Linked DNA regions of Homo sapiens: region 2 is linked to region 1. Evidence: fine-mapped expression QTL. Tissue or cell type: breast. Region 1 holds a variant in brackets; the other region holds the start of a gene. All regions are shown on one strand. Distances are from middle to middle.

Region 1 (10,444 bases):
GTGGCTGGAAGAGGTGAAAACACAAGTTGGGTCAGATCACAGAGGGTTTGCAAGCCATGGCAAGGAGCTTTTATTTTCTCCAAAGTGGGATAGGAAACTATTACCGGGCTTTAAGAAAAGAATTTTAGGCCTGGCGTGGTAGCTCATGCCTGTAATCCCAGCACAGTGGTAGGCTGAGGCAGGCGGATCACTTGAGGTCGAGTTCGAGACCGTCCTGACCAACATGGTGAAACCCCGTCTCTACTGAAAATACAAAACTTAGCTGGGCACGGTGGCTCATGCCTTTAATCCCAGCTACTCAGGAGGCTGAGGCAGGGGAATCACTTGAACCCAGGAGACGGAGGTTGCAGTGAGCCAAGATGTCGCCACTGCACTCCAGCCTGGTGACAGAACGAGACTCCATCTCAAAAAGAAAAAAAAGGCTGAGCACAGTGGCTCATGCCTGTAATCCCAGCACTTCCGGAGGCCCAGGCGGGCAGATCACGAGGTCAGGAGATTGAGACCATCCTGGCTAACACAGTGAAACCCCATCTCTACTAAAAAAAAAAAAAAAAAAAAAAAAATTAGCTGGGCGTGGTGGCGGGCGCCTGTAGTCCCAGATACTCAGGAGGCTGAGGCAGGAGAATTGCTTGAACCCAAGAGGCGGAGGTTGCAGTAAGCCGAGATCACGCCACTGCACTCCAGCCTGGCCAACAGTGAGACTCTGTCTCAAAAAAAAAAAAGAAAAAGAAAAAAGAAAAGAAAAGAGCTTTATAATCTAACTTGTGTTTTTAAAAGGTGACGTTACTGTGTAGAAAGTGTATCCGAAAGGAAGCAGATAATATCCCCTGACATTACAAATGCACATATTAGCCAACGGGAAGTAGAAGCCGGTGAGACAGCGTGGCTGAGACCCAGACAGCAGCATGTGGATGGAGATGGAGAGTCTGTAGATGGATTCAGGATATCTTCTGAAGGTGGAGAAGACGTTAGCTGGTGATGGCATGAATGTAGGAGGTTCTCAGCTTGCACAGCTGGGTGAAATGGAGAAATAAAATGGGTGATGAGAAAGACAAAAAGAACAGGGTATGCAGATGCAGAGGGGGTATGCCAAGTTTGAGATGAGACGTGCATGTGAAGACGCCAAATAGGCAGGTGAATATACAAGCCCAGAGCTCGGAGGAGAGGCTGCGCTCAAGACAAAACGTGGGTGCCGCAGAGAGCAGATACGCTGCACAGCTATTGGAATGCTGACCGCCCTGAGGGCGAAAGCACAAAGCGGTCCCAGAGCAGGTCTTGGGGAAATCAGCCTCAGAAGACAGCAGAGGGGGAGCCCCCGACAGAGAAAAGATACACCAGCCAGAGAGGCAGGAGGAAAAAACCAAGAGCGTCTTGGACTCCAAGCAAGGGAAGTTTCCAGAAGGACGAATGTTACTGAAAAGCTGACTGGCGATAGAAAAGTGAAAAGAGATTCAGCAATGTGGAAGTCGTCAACGACTGATGAAAGCAGCTTGAATGGAGTGGTAAGGACAGAAGCCGGAATGGGAGGGATTGAGAGGCGGAAAAAAATGGCATAACAAGTGAGAAAGCTCTCAAAGTTTGGCTTGGAAGGAGAAACACAGCAATGGAGAGGCAACGGAGGAGACGTGGCGACAAGTGAGACAAGGGAACATTATCTGTATGTGGATGCGCATGATCCAGTAGTGGACAGGGGAAAAGTAAGGAAATGAAGTCAGGTCAACGGAAGTGGGGAAGGCCTCAAGAAGGAGCAGGGGGTGCAGTATGCACGTGGAAAGGACATATTTGAAAGGAAGGACATGACAGGAAGGAGGAGAGGGGTGCAGAGGCAAGCGCCTTGCTAGATATGAAGATGCAACATTGATTTGTAAAGTCTCCAGGACAGTTCCTGCAAAATGGAGGCATTGAGGATGCTTGGGGCCAGGCGCGGTGGTTCACACCTGTAATCCCAGTACTTTGGGAGGCCTAGGCAGGTGGATCACCTGAGGTCAGGAGTTTGAGACCAGCCTGGCCAACATGGTAAAACCCCATCTCTACTAAAAATACAAAAATCAGCCAGGTGTGGTGGCGGGTGCCTGTAATCCCAGCTACTCGGGAGGCTGAGGCAGGAGAATCGCTTGAACCCGAAAGGCAGAGGTTGCAGTGAGCCAAGATCATGCCACTGCACTCCAGCCTGGGAGACAGAGTGAGACTTGGTCTCAAAAAGAAAGGATCCTTGGGTAGTGTGAGAAAACTACCCAAGGGATGTCAAAATGCTTTGTGAGGCTGGGTGAGGTGGCTCACACCTATAATCCTAGCACTTTGGGAGGCCGAGGCAGGCAGATTGCCTGAGCTCAGGAGTTCGAGACCAGCCTGGGCAACATGGCAAAACCCCGTCTCTGTTAAAAATACAAAAATGAGCCAGGTGTGGCAGCGGGTGCCTGTAATCCCAGTTACTAGGGAGGCTGAGGCAGGAGAATCCCTTCAACTCAGGAGAGAGAGGTTGCAGTGAGTACAGATCACGCCTTTGCACTCCAGCCTGGGTGAGAGAGCGAGACTCCGTCAATAAATAAATAAATAAATAAATAAAAACGCTTTGAGAGAAAAAGAGGGTGTGGCCTGTAACTCATTCTGTGAAGCTGTACCCTCACCTTGATACCCAAACCAGTCAAAGACACAAGAAGAAAGGGGTTTGGGGCCAGGCTTACTCATTAACATGGTCTCAAAGATCCTAAATAAGTCTTAGCAAACAGAAACCAGCGACAAACAAAAAAGAAAACATCGAATTCAATACAATAAATATTTGAGAGCCCACAAAGTGTTAGGTGCTGTTCAGGGCATGGGAGCACTGCGGTAAATAAAACGGATGAGAATCCTGGCTGTGATGAAACTTAAAATGGGGAGGAGGTGAAAGAAAACCAGAAAACGAAGGCAGATGTCATGTGTTTCACAGGTGCAGAGTACAAGTCGAGCACTTGAGAAAGAATTTCTCAGGGAAACATTAAATCACCCTCCATCTCTACTGAACATCCTGAACAACAACAGCGCCGCAGCAGCAAGGACTTGCCTTCCTTCTTAGGGTCATCCATGTTCACGTCCCCTGCCCGGCAGGCTGAAGGCTCATCGCGGCCGCCGCCTCCTTCCATGGAGAGAGCTGTCAGAAGTCACTGCAGGGTGGAACGGGGCCAGAAAGTGAGTACGTGTCAGGGCCCAGGGCTCCGGCTTCCTTCAGCCCTCGGCTCACAGAGGCAGAGAGAGCTGAAGGCCGCGGCCAGGTCTGGGAGAGGCGGCGCGGGGGCCGCTCTGAAATGATCGCATCCCAGGGGACCCCAGGGCCCGAGTGCCGCCAGGCCGGGAGTCAGCCCGAACGCCATCAGACGAGATAACGGAATTCTCGGCTTCTGGGCCAGAGTGTTGGGGGCTCTGTTTGCCTGGGGGGCAGCCCTAGACCTCCCGGCATCCCCGACCACGGCGCGAGGGGCCTCAGTGACCCCTGCTCGAGCCCAGGCCCGGCTCCTGGCGGGGCGCGGCCCCTCCCCGTCCCGAAAACGGCGGGCACCGCGCCGCACCGGGCCCACCGGGCAAGCCTCGCCCCCGACCCTGACCCCACCTTACCCAAAGCGGCAGACGATGCAGGACGCGCCTCCGGCACGGATTTAAACGCGGCGCCGGGAGACGCGGGTTGCCGATTGGTCGGTTTGAAAAGGGCTCCGAGAGGCGGCGGGCTGGGTGCGTCCTGGGTATTGTAGTCAGGACGCTGGTAAGAAGCGTCCAGTGCGCATGCGCACTGCTTCAGCGCAGCGAATGGCTCCGCACAGCGCCAGGGATCACCCACCCGGAAGTCTGCCCGGCCTGGCCGCCAAGTGTCACTAGGTATCCGCGTCAAGCCGGAACCATGTATAGCAGCTCCTTGTGTGTAGGGAGAAAGTTAAAACTGCCATCTAAGGGTGTCGATGGGAAGACTAAAAGTAGGCTCACCCACCTGCTGTGAAGCAGCGCGCGCGAGCTGTTACTAACAGTAGTGAAAAGCCGGGATCCCTGCCCCCGAGGCACGCACTGGGGCGCCGGCTGACCCAGAGACCTGAGGGAGACTCATTGCCGGAGCTGCACAGCCTGTGGGGCTGGAGGGGAACCGTCGCCCTTGGCGGGCTTCCCCAACCGCCAAGGCCTGAGGACCGCCGAGGGCGTGGCGGGAGCCTGTCCTCGGTTTTACAGGCCGGCTGGGGAGCTGCGTTGGAGGAGAGAGCCAGGGGCTGGGGCCCGGTGATGGAGCCTGCCTTGGGGAGTGCATGTGTTGGAGAGAGGTGGGAAGCAGATAGGATAACCCTGACCTGAGCCATGGAGACGCAAGGACAGGACTGGTAGACGGGTCAGTGGGCAGCAACTTAAGACTGACCTCGCTTGAGCCTTTGCCTGCGAACGAGGTATAATACCCACCTCGGGGGCTTGAGGATCAAATGAGGGGCTCCACCCACGGCAAAGTGTCACTAAGCGGGATGGAGGAGGATGCAGGAAGAGGAGTCTGGGAGGACCCGCTCTGAAAAGGATGGAACTCGAGAGCACCATTTTCAGGGACGAAGATAAGCTGTTTATTTGGGGCAGGCTGTGGGGAGAGCTGTGCAGCAAACAGCCACCCGGGGCCCAGGGCAGAGGCCTTCCAGGCTGGCTCGGGCACTTCTGGGTCCCATGTCCCTGGTTTTGCATCATCCATACCAATCACTCCATGTTGCTATGTTCCTTCACCAGAAGACTGGGGGCTCAAAAAGGGCAGGGCAGCCCTCACTCACCAGTCTCCCCAGCCTCACCCAGCTCAGCACAGGGCACCAGGCAGGGGCTGAGAGTGCTGGGGTAGGTGGGTGTGGTCAAACAGCTTGGAAAGAGTTTGGCCTGCTCATTGCATTCCCCTCAGCTCATCCTGGGGATGTCTGCTCATGGGAGAATGGCAGAGGGATCCCCAACAGTCATTCCTGATACTCCTCTCCCTGTATCATGTCAGCACATAGTAGGTGTGGCCTATGTATGGCAGATTCATTTCTGCCCCCAATAGGATTTGCTGTAGTTTGGATGTGTGTCCCCTCAAAATCTCATGTTGAAATGTGATCCCAATGTTGGAAGTGGGGCCTGGTGGGAAGTAATTGGGTCGTGAGGGCAGATCCCTTATGAATGGTTCAGCACCATCCCCTTGGTGATGAGTTCTTGCTTAGTTCACACAAGATCTGGTTATTTAAGAGTCTAAGACCTCCCCTTCTCTCTTACTCCTGCTCTCACTATGTGATATACTGGCTCCCCATCACCTTATGTCATGATCTTAAGCTTCCTGAGGTTGCACCAGAAGCAGATGCCAGCACCATACTTCCTGAAAAGCCTGCAGAACTGTGAGCCAATTAAACCTCTTTATAAATTACCTAGCGTCAGGTATTTCTTCATAGCAATGCAAGAAGGCCTAATACAGAGTTTGACTTCATTTATTTATGCCTTCATTCACCAACTTTCACTGACAGCTACTCAGTGCAGGCCATGTGCCAGGTGATGCTGGGGACAGATGCTGTCCCTGACCTGGAGAGGTCATGGCAGGGGTGCAAGAGCAAGGGCAAGTGCCAAGGGCTGAGGGGCACAGAGGCAGCACCCTCACCAGCCTGCAGTGGGGGTTGGCGGGTAGAAGGCTTCCTGGAGGAGGGACCAGGGTTCCCAATTGCACAGCCAAGTCATGTCTTCTTGCTTGGAACCAGGAGAGGGGAAGGAGGCTCCCCTTAGGATGTGTCCCTAGTTCTTGGGTAGAGAAGGCGCCTCTCTGGAAATACTACTATAATTACCCCTTTTCTTTCTTTCTTTTTTTTTTTTTTTGAGACGGAGTCTTGCTTTGTCGCCCAGGCTGGAGTGCAGTGGCGCGATCTCCGCTCACTGCAAGCTCTGCCTCCCGGGTTCACGCCATTCTCCTGCCTCAGCCTCCCGAGTAGCTGGGACTACAGGCGCCCACCACCATGCCCGGCTAATTTTTTGTATTTTTAATAGAGATGGGGTTTCACCGTGTTAGCCAGGATGGTCTTGATCTCCTGACCTCGTGATCTACCTGCCTCAGCCTCCCAAAGTGCTGGGATTACAGACGTGAGCCACTGCGCCCGACCTCCCATTTTCTTGACTAGATGCCCCACCTACTTTTTTTTTTTTTTCCCTTGAGATGGGAGTCTCGCTCTGTTGCCCAGACTGCAGTGCAATGGCACGATCTTGGCTCACTGCAATCACTGCCTCCCAGGTTCAAGTGATTCTCCTGCCTCAGCCTCCCGAGTAGCTGGGATTACAGACGTGTGCCACCATGCTCAGCTAATTTTTGTATTTTCAGTAGACACAGGGTTTCACCATGTTGGCCAGGCTGATCTCGAACTCCTGACATCAGGGGATCCACCCACCTCAGCCTCCCAAAGTGGTGGGATTACAGGCGTGAGCCACTGC[G/A]CCTGGCCTGCCCCACCTACCTTAAGTTCAAGGAGAAGCCATCTCCCCAGGACCCAGCCCCAGGCCTGCACCACAGATGCTCAAAGACTTGGAGGAACTGATGAATTCATTTTAATCACAGAAATTTGCCTGGGCTTGAGCAAACTGTGGGGACTCAATAGATTTGGAGGCCTCCTCTCCCTTCTGAGAGGCCTGCCTGCTTCCTGCCCTGATGAATCCCTAATTTCAGTACAAACTGAGGAACTTGAAAAACATCTGTGCACTGGGACCGCCCCTCACAGGAGGGCTGAAAGCAGCACAGCTGAGTCAGCGGCACATTCAGCAGGCGTTCAGTGGGGAAGCAGGAGACAGAGGCGGCGCTCACAGGACCCGCTCCAGGCTTGTCACAGCCACACATCACAGCACTTTGGGTTTTGCCACAACAGAGCAGCTCTGAGCTCAATCCTTGCACCTCAGAAGTGCATTTATGATTAAAATCATGCTCGACATGAAGCCCTGTTATGATGTGCAGTTTAAAAAGAGAAACGGGTCCAAATCAGCACCAACAGAGCCCCCCAGGGGGCTCCAAGACTCGCCCCAGAGACAGCAGAAGGACCCCATGTGCGCGCTGATCTGTAAGAAGGGTGGTGGATGCAGCAGCAGGGGGCTGCGTCCAAAGGCAGCAGGTGGGGGCCTCTCATAGTGTGACCCTGGGCAGGCCACTCCCCTACCCCGGTACCCTCACCTGAAAAATGGGACAGCAACACAATGAGACAACAGAGACTGTCTAGAATATAAAGAAAAGAATGAAAAGGTCCATCCCAAGGGCAGCCTGGTGGGGACGGGGACAGGCAGTGGGGGGAGGCTGCCTCTGGAAGACCTGTCCCAGCAGAATCAGCCCCCACCTCTGCCCTGCCTTCCAACCTTTGAACCACCAGGCAGTAGACACATTCCCCTGGGAAACAGAATTTGCAAGGCAGGTGGAAAGAGCAGCACTCACACTGGCTGTGACTGCTGAAAAATGCTCATTGGCCCTTCTCGAGGACTGAAAGGAGATTCGGAATCACATTTAAAATTAACCCGTGACCCACTTCCTGTAAAACTGAAGATCACCCTCTAACAGCCCTAACAAACAGGCTCTGGCCGTCTCCTGACCCTAACCCGGTGGAGCAGCTGACTGGACGCAGTGACGCCACCACTGAGGTTCTGCAGGGTGGAGGCGGCCAGGCTGGCTCACTGCATGAGGTGGACGGTAGCTGCCTTGCGGATGAGCCGCTCGGTCAGGGGCGAGTTGGGCTTCAAGGCATCACGCTCCATCAGAAGGCTCCTGTGGAAACAGACACAGAGGTCCTGTTACAGAACCTTCTAGAGGGATGTGGGGCCTGGTGGTCCCTTGGTCCCAAGGCAGAACACAGGCAGGCTAGACTGCGGCACTGAGGGAACAGCAAGGGCCAAGGCCCAGGGGCAGGAGGCCTGGCCTCAGTTTGGGGAGAGGTGAGGATGGGAGGGCACAGACCTCCAGTGCAGGAAGCCACACCCGAGATGGGGCACAACAGGTGGCAGTGGGGAAAACCCAGGTTTGAAGAGAGAAGACCCAGGTACGGTTTGAGGTAAAGACCCTGCTGTGGACTGAATGTCTGTGTCCAGGCTAAATGTATATGTTGAAGCCCAAATGCCCAAGGTGATGGTATTAAGAACAGGGCCTCTTGGAGGTGATTAAGTCATGAGGGTGGGGCCCTTGTGAATGGGATTAGTGCCCTTATAAGAAGAGATAGGTGTGGTGGCTCACCCCTGTAATCCCTGCACGATGGAAGGATGAGGCAGGAAGATTCCTTGAGCCCAGGAGTTTGAGTTTACAGTGAACTGTGATCACACCACTGCATTCCAACCTGGATGACCGAGTGAGACCTTGCCTCTAAAAATATAAAAAAATTTAAAAAGAAAGAAGAAAGAAGAGACGTGAAAGAATTAGCACTCAAAGGAAAGGTCATGTGAGGACACAGCAAGAAAGTGGCTGTCCACAAGCCAGGAAGAGAGGCCTCAGCAGAAACTGAACCCAGCCAGGCCTTGTTCCTGGACATTCCAGCCTCCAGAACTGTGAGACAGTGCATGCCTACTGTGCAAGCCGCCCAGACTGTGGCACTTTTATTTTTTAATTTTTTGAGATAGAATCTCCCTCGGTCACTCAGGCTGGAGTGCAATGACGCGATCTCGGCTCACTGCAACCTCCACCTCCCAGGTTCAAGCGATTCTCCTGCCTCAGGCTCCCGACTAGCCGGGATTACAGGTACCCACCACCACGCCCGGCTAATTTTTTGTATTTTTAGTAGAGGCGGAGTTTCACCATATTAGCCAGGCTGGTCTTGAACTCCTGACCTCAGGTGATCCACCCGCCTTGGCCTCCGAAAGTGCTGGGATTACAGGCATGAGCCACCGTGCCCGGCCTGTCTGTGGCACTTTTAAAATAACAACCCAAACTGACTAAGACAGCCCCCAAACACCTGAAAACAGTGGTTCTAGAGGGCGTGGGTGGTGTGAAGGGGCTGGGGCCGGGAACTCATTGTGGGGGGCACCATGGCTGTGGGTGGAAGGTTTCCCACCTTGGGGGCTGGTGAGCTGTGCTGATGGCCCCATGGATGCTGCCTGGTAGCAGGACAGGACTTGGAGAGAAGGCCCCCTCCACGTCTCCTAATGCAGTCGGCTCCCTGTGCAGCCTGCTCTCCCCCTGCCCTCCCCCACTGGGCCCCGCAGAAGGCCACATCGGCACTGCCGCACTGCCCCACAGATGTCACCCCAGCTCCATCCTCAGCCCTCCTGTCCACACAGCCACTTTCCCCACCGCTGCTGCCAGAGGCACCAACTCCCACCCACACCACAGCCTGAGCTCCCCAGGGGGCTTGACCACCAAAGAAACACGCATGGTTTTGTCTACAGCCATGGAAGGGGAAAGCGGGGAGCATGCGTCCAAGACATTTTACAGTTCTAGGCGGTTCCAGTGCTGCCAGCCAGACCTGTTTCATGAGTACCACAGAACCTGTACAGCTCAGTTTGGGTAACCCTGCCTGGAGGGAGCTGCGCTGGTGCACCTGCGCCTAAACCACTGGGCTTGTCACCAGCCAAGGGCCTCCTGTGGACCCGGGCTGCCACCTGCTCTCACAGCACACCTTCCCCACCAGGCACCCCATGACTCCTCTATTCTTCCTTTCACTTATGTCTGAGGGTGGCAGGGACATGGGCAAGGAGAGGTGTCAAACTCGCCGCTCAGGCACACGGGCTACGCAGCTGCTGGCCAAGAGCTCAGCAGCCTAAGTGGAGGGAGGCAAGCTGGGCCATGGAAGCACCAAGGCTGCTGGCAATGGTGAGGGCTCTTTGGAGTTCCCCCAGCACTCTCATCTGCCAGCTATGCCACCCTCCTGACACTCGCCTGCCAGCCACACCACCCTCCTAACACTCACCCTCCAGCCACGCCACCCTAACACACCTTCCAGCCACGCCACCCTCCTAACACTCACCCTCCAGCCACGCCACCCTCCTAACACTCACCCTCCAGCCACACCACCCTCCTAACACCCTCCAGCCACGCTGCCCTAACACACTCACCCTCCAGCCATGCCACCCTAACACTCACCCTCCAGCCACGCCACCCTCCTACCAGCCCCATGCCTGGCCTGGCTAAACCCACTGTGGTTTCGGGTCTGCCCTCAGCTGCTGCTCCCTCAGTGCGAGTTTACGTGTCTGTGGGACTGATTGCTCCCTGTCGCTCCCCCGACTACAGATGGGCTCCTGGTAGCCAGTGACTGGTGTGCCTGCTCACTGCTCCCTCTCGGTACCCAGCACAGGCAGGCAGGTGAAATGAGCTGAGGTCTAACTGAGCATTAGGTGTCGGCCAGGTGCAAAAAAGGAGAAAGGGTGTTCCAAGCGTGCAAAGGCCCAGGAGCCTGAAAGAGCAGGACGTGTTTACGTACCCAGGTAGCTTAGCAAGGCTAAAAGGGAGTGGGCTGGGAAGGGTGGGAGGTTGGGCCTGGGGTGGGGCTGGCTC
Region 2 (10,444 bases), 27 kb after region 1:
ACCATAGTGTGCTAGGACCACCCATGTGGACCCTGGAAAACAGCTGGTGATTCCGATGGTCGAGCCCAGCCCAGCCCAGCTGATGATTCAGGTGGTCGAAGCCCCCTGATCAGGGCTCAAGGTCTGCTCAGAGAGTCCGAGCCCACCCCTGGCTCCTGGCTCCCCATGACTGGGTTTGGCTCCCCCGTTCTCCCCCAGTTATTTCCTTGTTTGTCTTCTCCAGGGCAGTACAAGTCCCCTGCCTTAAGTCTGACTAGGCTGCAGCAGGGTGAGAAGGGTGTCCCTGCCGCACTGACAAGAGCCCTGTCCCCTCATCAGACCTTCTCCCAGGCCCGGAACCTTGCCGCACCACGGGACCACCCACCTGCAATGCACTGTGCTGGCTTCCCCATGCCCGCTGTACACATGGCTTGCCTGGATGCCAGCCTCTGTCACCACCTCACCCTGGCCACTCTGGATGAGGCCTCACTGGTCCCCTGACGGAGGCTGCAGCAGCCACCTCTCATGTTCCAGGGGTCTGGGCCTTGGATTCAGGAAGCTTTATCTAATCCCAGGGGTCAACCACCAGCTGGGTGGCTTTAAGTACAGTCTTACTCTTGCCAACCCTCAGTTTCCTCATCTGAGAAATGAGATCAGCATCTTCATTCCCGAATTGATGGTAATTAAAGAAAAGATGAGAAAAATGCCTTCTGATAGAACCTGGCATCTTTATGGGAGTGACTGTTTTTCCAGACACAAAGGCAGCTGTCATCTTCTCTCCCTCTGTGCAAATGCCACCCTGGTTGCTGCCACCCAACCTGCCTTCCCCATCCCAACTGTGTCCCTGTGGTAAAGGAAAGAGAGGGGCTGGATGTGTGAAGCGGGGCTCCTCCACCCAGGGAAGGCGTTACTCACCAAAGGTTGGATCTGCTGCTTTGAGCTTTGACAGGCAGCCCTCGATGCCACCGAGACTCTTGTCATTGGTCCATTTTACATACTGAAATGGGAAAAGCAAAACAAGTCCTCACGGAGCCCTTGGATCATTCTAACAAAGGTGGCTCTAAATCCAGGTTTACACTTTGGGAGGCCGAGGCGGGCAGAACATCTGAGGTCAGGAGTTCGAGACCAGCCTGACCAACACGGTAAAACCCCATCTCTACTAAAAATAGAAAAATTAGTGGGGCGTGGTGGTGCATGCCTGTAGTCCCAGCCACTTGGTAGGCAGAGGCATGAGAATCACTTGAACCCGGGGGCTGAGGTTGCAATGAGCCAAGATTGTGCCACTGCACTCCAGCCTGGATGGCAGAGAGAGACTGTCTCAAAAAACAAAAAATAAAAATAAATCCAGATTTGTTTTTCTTTGTAGAACACTGAGTATTTTCTGGACTCTAACCCAAAGAAGGCATAACCTGGCTGATAACTTTCTTCATACGAAGAAATGAAATACACATCACCCAAGGCACACTTTCTAGGGCTAGGGATGCTGCATTTCCAAAAAAGAAACATCAAAAGGCAGGTTCTGGCTGGGCGCGATGGCTCACGCCTGTAATCCCAGTACTTTGGAAGACTGAGGCGGGTGGATCACTTGAGGGCAGGAGTTTGAGACCAGCCTGGCCAACATGGCAAAACTCTGTCTCTACAAATAATACAAAAATTAGTCAGGCGTGGTGGCACATGTCTGTAGTCCTAGCAACTTGGGCGGCTGAGACTTGGGTGGCTGAGACAGGAGAATCGCCTGAACCTGGGAGGTAGAGGTTGCAGTGAGCTGAGATCGTGCCACTGCACCCCAGCCTGGGTGACAGAGAAAAGGAAAAAAAAAGGCCAGGTGTGGTGGCTCATGCCTGTAAGCCCAGCACTTTGGGAGGCCGAGGTGGGCGGATCATGAGGTCAGGAGATCGAGACCATCCTGGCTAACACGGTGAAACCCCCGTCTCTACTAAAGATACAAAAAATCAGCCGGGTGTGGTGGTGGGCGCCTGTAATCCCAGCTACTCGGGAGGCTGAGGCAGGAGAATGGCGTGAACCCAGGCGCCACTGCACTCCAGCCTGGGCGACAGAGTGAGACTCTGTCTCAAAAAAGAAAAAAAAGAAAAAAGAAAAGAAAGAAAAGGCAGGTTCCTCCTGACAGGTGACCTGCTCCACATCGGCTTCTTCTGCCCTAAGAGGAGCCCTGAAGTTGGTCACGATAGGAATATTCCTGCTTCTTATTCATTCGTTTTAAAAATATTCACAGAAAACATTTATTTTAGAGAGTTAGAAAGACACAAAAGCTGAAAGATAAAACTTACCCAAAGCTCATTTTATCATTTTTTTTTTAATTGAGACAGAATCTTGCCCTGTCACCCAGGCTGGAGTGCAATGGCACGATCTTGGCTCACTGCAACCTCTGCCTCCAGGTTTCAAGCAATTCTCCTGCCTTGGTAGGAGAATCCCTCCTTAGTAGCTGGGATTACAGGTGTGCACCACTGCGCCCGGCTAATTTTTTTTTTTTCTTTTTTGAGATGGAGTCTTGCCCTGTCACCCAGGCTGGAAGGCAGTGGCACTATCTCAGCTCACTACAACCTCCACCTCCCTGGTTCAAGAATTCCTCTGCCTCAGCCTCCCGAGTAGCTGGGATTACAGGCCCATGCCACCATGCCCGGCTAATTTTTTTATATTTTTAGTAGAGACAGGGTTTCACCATGTTGGCCAGGCTGGTGTTGAACTCCTGACCTCAGATGATCCACCTGCCTCAGCCTCCCAAAGTGCTGGGATTACAGGCGTGAGTCACCGCGCCCAGCGCATCATCATTTTTAACAATTTGCTGTATTTGTACCTGGTCCTTTACTCAAATGCCTGTTTTAAAAAAAGTCCTAGACCTATAATCACACATTAGATTTTAAAATATGCCCTTTCAGCTGTCTAACCTACATCTACACAGAATTAGTACGTGTATTTTTTTTTTAAGACAGGGTTTGCTCTGTTGCCCAGGATGGAGTACAGTGGCACAATCACAGCTCACTTCAGTCTCAACCGCCCAGGCTCAAGCAATCCCCCTGCCTCAGCCTCCCAAATAGCTGAGACTATAAGCTACGCAAGCATTTTGACAAGATACAGGAGGGTTGGCACAGAGATTTAAAGAAGCCAAGTTCTAACACAGGACAGCACAGAGACACCAATACACGGGACAAAATATACCCAGGCTGGGAGGATGAGCTGCCACTGATTGGGGATGTGGTGTGTAACAAACTGAGTACTAGGGGCCGGGCACAGTGGCTCACGCCTGTAATCCCAGCACTTTGAGAGGCCAAGGCAGGGGAATCACAAGGTCAGGAGTTTGTGACCATCCTGACCAACATGGTGAAACCCCGTCTCTACTAAAGATACAAAAAATCAGCTGGGTATGATGGTGCGTGCCTATAATCCCAGCTACTTCGGAGGCTGAGGCAGGGCAATCGCTTGAACCCGAGAGGCAGAGTTTGCAGTGAGTCAAGACTGCGCCATTGCACTCCAGCCTGGGTGACAGGGCAAGACTCCGTCTCAAACAAAAAACAAATCGAGTACTCTACAGAGGCCGGCGAGATACAGGAAGGGCAAGTGAGCCAGGTCAAACACAAAATAAACAAACAACTCAGATGCCCACAGCAGAGTCCCTTGGCAGGGCAGGCTGGGAACAGGAGAGGCACCCATGGCGCAGCTCACAGCATTCCATCAGTCCTCTCTTGTTCAGCCCGTAGGCTTCTAAGAGCTACCTGAGTCCTCCTGTTATGTGGATGAAGTCAGTATGCAGGGGCCTCACCACCCACGCCAAGGTCAGCTTAGGTTTCTATCAGTGCAGTTAGGCCCAGGTTCATCCTGGTTCTGCCTGTAATTCATGGACAACCTTCAAGTCAAGTAGGTTCAACTCTGAGCCTCAGTTTCCCCACTTGTCAAGGAAGCTAGTTGGATCTTACTTCTGAGACTTCTCCTAGTTCTAAAACTATAGGACCCTTCATTGGTAGAGAAATGACTGGTAATGTGGCAGAAGGTCTTGGCACAGCCTAGGTGAAGGCAGTATACTCACAGATTCATCCCAGGACAGGATCCCACGTCCTAAGCAGCCGAGCCCTGCATCAGACCCTCAGCAGGCCACAATGGGAGGCCCGGGGAGGCCAGCATCCTCAAAAAACATCCCCACTGCACCCACCGCTGTCCACCCACCACTCAGAGTCCTGGGGAAGAAGGGAGAGTGCAGAGGCCCTTTTAGGACGCTGTGGGGGGGGGGCAGAGATATGTCCCCACCCTCCCACGTCCTCCAGTACAAAGTGCACAGATGTGCTGCCATCTATTGCTAAGGTCATGGCGCAATTTAAAAAGCTTTCCCCATGGCCGGGCGCGGTGGCTCACGCCTGTAATCCCAGCACTTTGGGAGGCCGAGGCGGGCGGATCACGAGGTCAGGAGATCGAGACCATCCTGGCTAACACGGTGAAACCCCGTCTCTACTAAAAAATACAAAAAAAATTAGTCGAGGGCAGTGGCGGGCGCCTGTAGTCCCAGCTACTCGGGAGGCTGAGGGACGAGAATGGCGTGAACCCGGGAGGCAAAGCTTGCAGTGAGCCGAAATAGCGCCACTGCACTCCAGCCTGGGCGACAGAGCGAGACTCCGCCTCAAAAACAAAACAAAACAAAACAAAACAAAACAAAAAAACAGCTTTCCCCAATTAAAAAACCTTCCCCTAGACCTCCACAGAAGGGGCCGCGGCCTCTCTCGGCAGGCATACCTGGGTCAGCGTGGCATCGAACAGCTTGCAGGCTTCGTTGCTTGTGGTGGAGAGCGGGAGCCTCGCATCCTTCCAGGCCTACAGACGGCAAGAAGGGAATAGCAGTGCCTTCTCTCCAGGAGCCCTTCAAACTTCAACACACACACGTCTCCTGGCCCCTCTGACCTCCACCTTCCTCATCTGTAAAATGGGCTCAGGCTCCCAGTCCTGGGCCGGTTCCAAGGAGCCCCTTACCTTTGCGGGCTTCCCTGCGTCCCCAGCCATGCCCAGTGAGCTACGTTTTTTAGGAGGTCTTGGGGTCTCCCGAGTACCCTGACAGGCGTCCCTTATTTCCCTCGGTGGGGACTCTACAAGAAGGGCCTCGGGTCCCTTCCAGGCGTTGCCGCGGACGCGCCCGTGCGCCCAGGGCTCACCCCACGCCCCGCGCCCGGGCCATGTCTCCCGTTATTCCGCCAGCACCGGGCCACCCCCAGGACCCGGGGCCCGAGGGGGACCTGGTTGGGGGCAGCCTCCGTGTACCTGGCAGTCGCGCAGAGGCGAGGCTGCGGCCATGTTGCGCCGGGTCGGAGTCCACCGCGAGCTCTGGGCACCCGGGCCTTCCTGGGAGTGGGCGGGGCGGTCGCGGAAAGGGGCGGGGCGGGGCGGCCGCGCTCTCCCGCTCGCTCACTGGTGGGTTTCGGACAGACTGGCCCTGGTCCAGGATCCGGGCCCGCCCCAGAGGCCCGACCGGACAACTCTGCAACGCGACGGGTCCCTTGGGAGCAGGGAGCTCCGGGACAGCGGTCACTTTCAAGTTTATGTCGTTGCGGTCGGCAGCTACCCGCGCGCGCACGGCACACACTCACTTGGCGTTCGGGGCCGGCTTCACTGGGTCGTCCCGCCGCCTCCATCCTCCCTTCTCAAGGATTTGCAGCGGAAAAATCGCTCTGTCTCCTGCAGTAGCGGCTTCTCCCTCTGGACTGGCCCGGTCTGGCCCGGCCTGAACTCTGCCATCAGCCACACACCAGCCCCAGTCCAATGGGCTCCCCTAGTTTAATTTGCCCCCGCCCCAGGGTGCACGAATCAAGGGCGTAGAACCAAGTGCACGGGCAGATCTGGCCTTTATTTAAAATGCTATTTTGTTCATCATGGACTTTTTGCATTAGTTTTGATTTTTGAAATATTGCACTGAAGTATTATTTGTTTTATGTGAGAGCTGTAAAGATAAAACTCTTAGAAGAAAACAGAAGTAAATCTTCATGGCCTTGGATTTAGCAATGGATTCTTAGATGTAACACCAAAAGGACAAGCAACAACAACAAAATAGATAAGTTGGACTTCGTCAAAATTAAAAACTTTTCTGAATCAAAGGACACTACTCAGGAAACTGAAAAGATTAACACAATGGGAAAAAACATTTGTAAATCATATATTGGGTAAGAGTCTAGAATCCAGAATACATAAAGAAATCTTGGCCGGGCACAGCAGCTCATGTCTGTAATCCCAGCCCTTTGGGAGGCTGAGTCAGGTGGATCACCTGAGGTCAGGAGTTCAAGACCAGCCTGGCCAACATGGTGAAACCTTATCTCTATTAAAAGTACAAAAATAGCCAGGCGTGGTGGTGCATGCCTGTAATCCCAACTACTTGGGTGGCTGAGGCAGGAGAATCGCTTGAACCCGGGAAGTGGAGGTTGGAGTAAGCCAAGATTGTGCCACTGCACTCCAACCTGGGCAACAGAGCCAGACTCTGTCTCAAAAAAAAAGAATTCTTACAACTCAACAGCGAAATGACAAACAGCCCAAATTTAAAGTGGGCAAAGAATTTGAGGTGACAGTTCTCCAAAGAAGACACACCTTTCCTACAGCGTTTTCAAGGTTCATTCATACTGAAGGAAGAGGCAGACACAAAAGGTAACACTTGTATTAGTGCATTTACATGCATGTCCAGAATACGCAAACATAGAGACAGAAAGAAGATTGGTGGTGACCAGGGACTGAGGGGATAGGGATGATAAGTCACTGAAGCCTTGAACTCCTGGCTCCAGCAATCCTCCCACCTCAGCCTCCCATAAATGGTTACTTTTATGTGAACTTTACCTCAATAAAAGAGAATTTGTCTTGATTATTGAGTTTTTGGTGCCCCTCCACCCTTAAATTTTGCACTTGAGCTGAGTACTAATATGGACTAATACAGTAAATTGGTACCATTAGAGTGGGGTGTTGCCAAAAATATACCTGAAAATGTGGAAGCAACTTTGGAACTGGGTAACAGGCAGAGGTTGGAACAGTTTGGAGGGCTCAGAAGACAGGAGTATGTGGGAAATTTTGGAACTTCCCAGATACTTGTTGAATGGCTTTGCCCAAAATGCTGATAGTGATATGGACAATAAGGTACAGGCTGAGGTGGTCTCAGATGGGGATGAGGAACTGGAGCAAAGGTGATGCTTGTTATGTTTTAGCAAAGAGACTGGCAGCATTTTGCCCCTGCCCTAGAGATTTGTGGGACTTTGAACTTGAAAGAGATGATTTAGGGTATCTGGCAGAAGAAATTTCTAAGCAGCAAAGCATTCAAGAAGTGACTTGGATGCTGTTAAAAGCATTCGGTTTTAAAAGGGAAACAGAGCATAAAAGTTTGAAAAATTTGCAGACCGAAAATGTGATAGAAAATTCCATTTTCTGAGGAGAATTCAAACCAGCTGCAGAAATTTGTATAAATAACAAGCAGCCAAATGTTAATCCCCAAGACAATGGGGAAAAGGTCTCCAGGGCATGTCAGACGTCTTCATGGCAGCCCCTCCCATCACAGGCCTGGAGGCCCAGGAGGAAAAAGTGGTTTTGTGGGCTGGGCCCAGGGTCCCCAAGCTGTGTGCAGCCTAGGGATTTGGTGCCCTGTGTCCCAGCTGCTCCAGCTGTGGCTGAAAAAGGCCAATGTAGAGCTCGGGCTGTGGCTTCAGAGATTGCAAGCCCCAAGCCTTGGCAGCTTCCATGTGGTGTTGAGCCTGCAGTTGCACAGAAGTCAAGAATTGAGGTTTGGGAACCTCTGCCTAGATTTCAGAAGATATATGGCAACACCTGGATGCCAGGCAGAAGTTTACTGTAGGGGGAAGGCTCTCATGGAGAACCTGTGCTAGGGCAGTGTGGAAGGGAAATGTAGGGTTAGAGCCCCCACACAGAGTCCCTACTGGGGCACCGCCTAGTGGAGCTGTGAGAAGAGGGCCACCATCCTCCAGACCCTAGAATGGTAGATTCACCAACAGCTTGCACCATGAGTCTAGAAAAGCTGCAGACACTCAACACCAGCCCACGAAGGCAACCAGGAGGGAGGCTGTACCCTGCAAAGCCACAGGGGCGGAGCTGCCCAAGACCATAGGAACCCACCTCTTGCATCAGCATGAGCTGGATTTGAGACATGAAGTCAAAGGAGATAATTTTGGAGCTTTAGGATTTGACTGCCCCACTGGATTTCAGACTTGCATGGGCCCTATAACTCCTTTGTTTGGCCAATTTCTCCCATTTGGAATGGTTGTCTTTACCCAATGTCTGTACCCCACTGTATCTAGGAAATAACTAACTTGCTTTTGATTTTTTTTCTGTTTTTTGAGACAGAGTTTCGTTCCTGTTGCCCAGGCTGGAGTGCAATGACACGATCTTGGCTCACCGCAACCTCTGCTTCCCGGGTTCAAGCGATTCTCCTGCCTCAGCCTCCCGAGTAGCTGGGATTACAGGCATGCACCACCACACCCGGCTAATTTTGTATTTTTAGTAGAGATGGGGTTTCTCCATGTTGGTCAGGCTGGTCTCAAACTCCCAAGCTCAGGTGATCTGCCCGCTTCAGCCTCCCGAAGTGCTGGGATTACAGGGTGAGCCACTGCGCCCAGCCAGTTGCTTTTGATTTTACAGGCTCATAAGCATAAGCGACTTCCTTTGTCTCAGACAGGACTTTGGACTGTGGACTTTTGAGTTAATGTGAAATGAGTTAAGACTTTGGAGGACTGTTGGGAAGGCATGATTGGTTTTGAAATGTGAGGAGATGAGATTTGGCAGGGGTGGAATGATATAGTTTGGCTCTGTGTCCCCACCCAAATCTCATCTTATAGTCCCATAATTCCCACATGTTGTGGGAGGGACCGGGTGGGAGATAACTGAATCACAGGGGCAGTTTCCCCCATATTGTTCTGTGGTAGTGAATAAGTCTCAGGAGATCTGATGCTTTTATCAGGGGTTTCCGCTTTTGCGTCTTCCTCATTTTCTCTTGCCACTGCCATGCAAGAAGTGCTTTTTGCCTCCTGCCATGATTCTGAGGCCTCCCCAGCCATATGGAACTGTAAGTCCAATTAAACCTCTTTTTCTTCCCAGTCTTGGTTATGTCTTTATCAGCAGCATGAAAACGGACTAATACAGGGGAGGGCCAATTAAGACCACGAGTTTGAGACCAGCCTGTGAAACACAGCAAGACACCATCTCTACAAAAATAAAAAATAAATCAGTCAGGTGTAGTGGTGTAGACCTGTAGTATGGGAGGCTGAGGCAGGAGGATTCCTTGAGCCCAGGAGTTCAAGGTTACAGTCAGCTATGATTGCACCATTGCACTCCAGCCTGGGCAACAGAGCAAGACCCTGTCTCTAAAATCATTCAATCCATCAATCAAGTCCCAAAATATACAGCAAAAATGGACAGAGTTAAAGAATGAGGCCAGGCACAGTGGCTCATGCCTGTAATCCCAGCACTTTGGGAGGCCGAGGTGGGTGGATCACTTGAGGTCAAGCCATTGCACTCCAGCCTGGGTGACAGAGACTCCGTCTCAAAAAACAAACAAACAAACAAACAAACAAAAAACAAAACCCCCAAACCAACTAGAAAGAAAAGAGCAAAGCGACCCCAAAGTAAGAAACCGAGAGTCAGACCTTCCTGGGCGCCCAGGGATCTCACGGTTCCCTCCTGATCTCCCATTTTGTGACTGGCTTTCCCAAGGGTTCCTGCTGAAGCCCCTTCTCCGTGGTCAGCTCTGTGGTCTGCACGGGGCTGAACTGCCCTCCTGAGCCATCCTGACCCTGGGCCTGCACACACTTGGGGACGGAGAGGGAAGAGGTACCCAAGAAGTCCCCAGTGCCGACTGACCCCAAGCTCCGAGGTCCCAGCTGCTCTCTGGGACTCTGTCCCTGGGACCCCTCTGCCAGCGCCCTTCGACGCCCGAGACCCCCACTGTCCCCAAGACCCTCACTATCCCCGCGACCCCGGTGGCGGTTGGGCGCGCCTCGCGGCCTCTCCCAGCTTCTCCTGGGCCGGCGCCATGAGGCCTGGGCCCGCTCTCCTCCTTCTGGGCGTGGGCCTGAGCCTGAGCGTCGGCCGCCTCCCGCTGCCGCCGGTTCCTCGCGGGGCACAAGCCGCCGTCTCCGGGGCGCCCGGTGGCCTCCTCAGGGGCGCCCCGGGCCTCGGGGTGCGCGGCGGCCGCGCCCTCCTCAGTCTGCGGCCCAGCGCGGTGCGGGCGGGCGGCGCTGTCCTGAGCGGCCGCGGCAGCCTCTGCTTCCCCCATGGCGGGACCGGGCGGCGCTGGTACTGCCTCGACTTGCGCGTCCTGCTCAGCGCCCAACGCCTGCCCTGGCCGGCCGCGCCCGCGCTCGCGCTCGTCGACCTGCAGCTCTCCGCGCGCGGCGGCCGCCTCTCCCTGACGTGGTCCGTGCGGCTGCCGCGCTCGCCCGGGCGCCTGGCCTGGGCCTTCCGCCTGCGGCTGCTCGGACCCGGCGCC

Which allele goes with the higher level. Alleles are on the strand shown, and positions count from the first base shown. SD is a standard deviation of normalised expression in the study named.
For the expression in breast of the gene that starts at base 5,303 in region 2, allele G in region 1 goes with a lower level than allele A (moderate effect, 0.61 SD a copy in GTEx).

The links. PIP is the estimated chance that this variant, and not a neighbour inherited with it, causes the effect.
Region 2: it holds the start of TTC38, and the variant in region 1 is fine-mapped to the expression of TTC38 in breast (GTEx, PIP above 0.99).

The regions. Positions count from the first base shown.
Region 1 is chr22:46,290,079-46,300,522 of GRCh38, reverse strand. TTC38 (tetratricopeptide repeat domain 38) reads right to left here. Exons shown (of 14, transcript NM_017931.4): 14 at 6,515-7,732. The coding sequence ends at 7,639. It overlaps GTSE1 (G2 and S-phase expressed 1), which reads right to left and starts at 3,653. Exons shown (of 12, transcript NM_016426.7): 1 at 3,592-3,653; 2 at 3,044-3,143. The coding sequence starts at 3,122. GTSE1-DT (GTSE1 divergent transcript) reads left to right here and starts at 3,863. Exons shown (of 1, transcript NR_024009.1): 1 at 3,863-5,380. RefSeq lists an enhancer at 3,136-3,245 and a silencer at 3,396-3,595. The variant G/A (reference allele first, on the strand shown) is at 6,427.
Region 2 is chr22:46,262,867-46,273,310 of GRCh38, reverse strand. TTC38 (tetratricopeptide repeat domain 38) reads right to left here and starts at 5,303. Exons shown (of 14, transcript NM_017931.4): 1 at 5,239-5,303; 2 at 4,720-4,797; 3 at 895-976. The coding sequence starts at 5,271. PKDREJ (polycystin family receptor for egg jelly) reads left to right here and starts at 9,968. Exons shown (of 1, transcript NM_006071.2): 1 at 9,968-10,444. The coding sequence starts at 9,989. RefSeq lists silencers at 5,027-5,236, 5,247-5,406.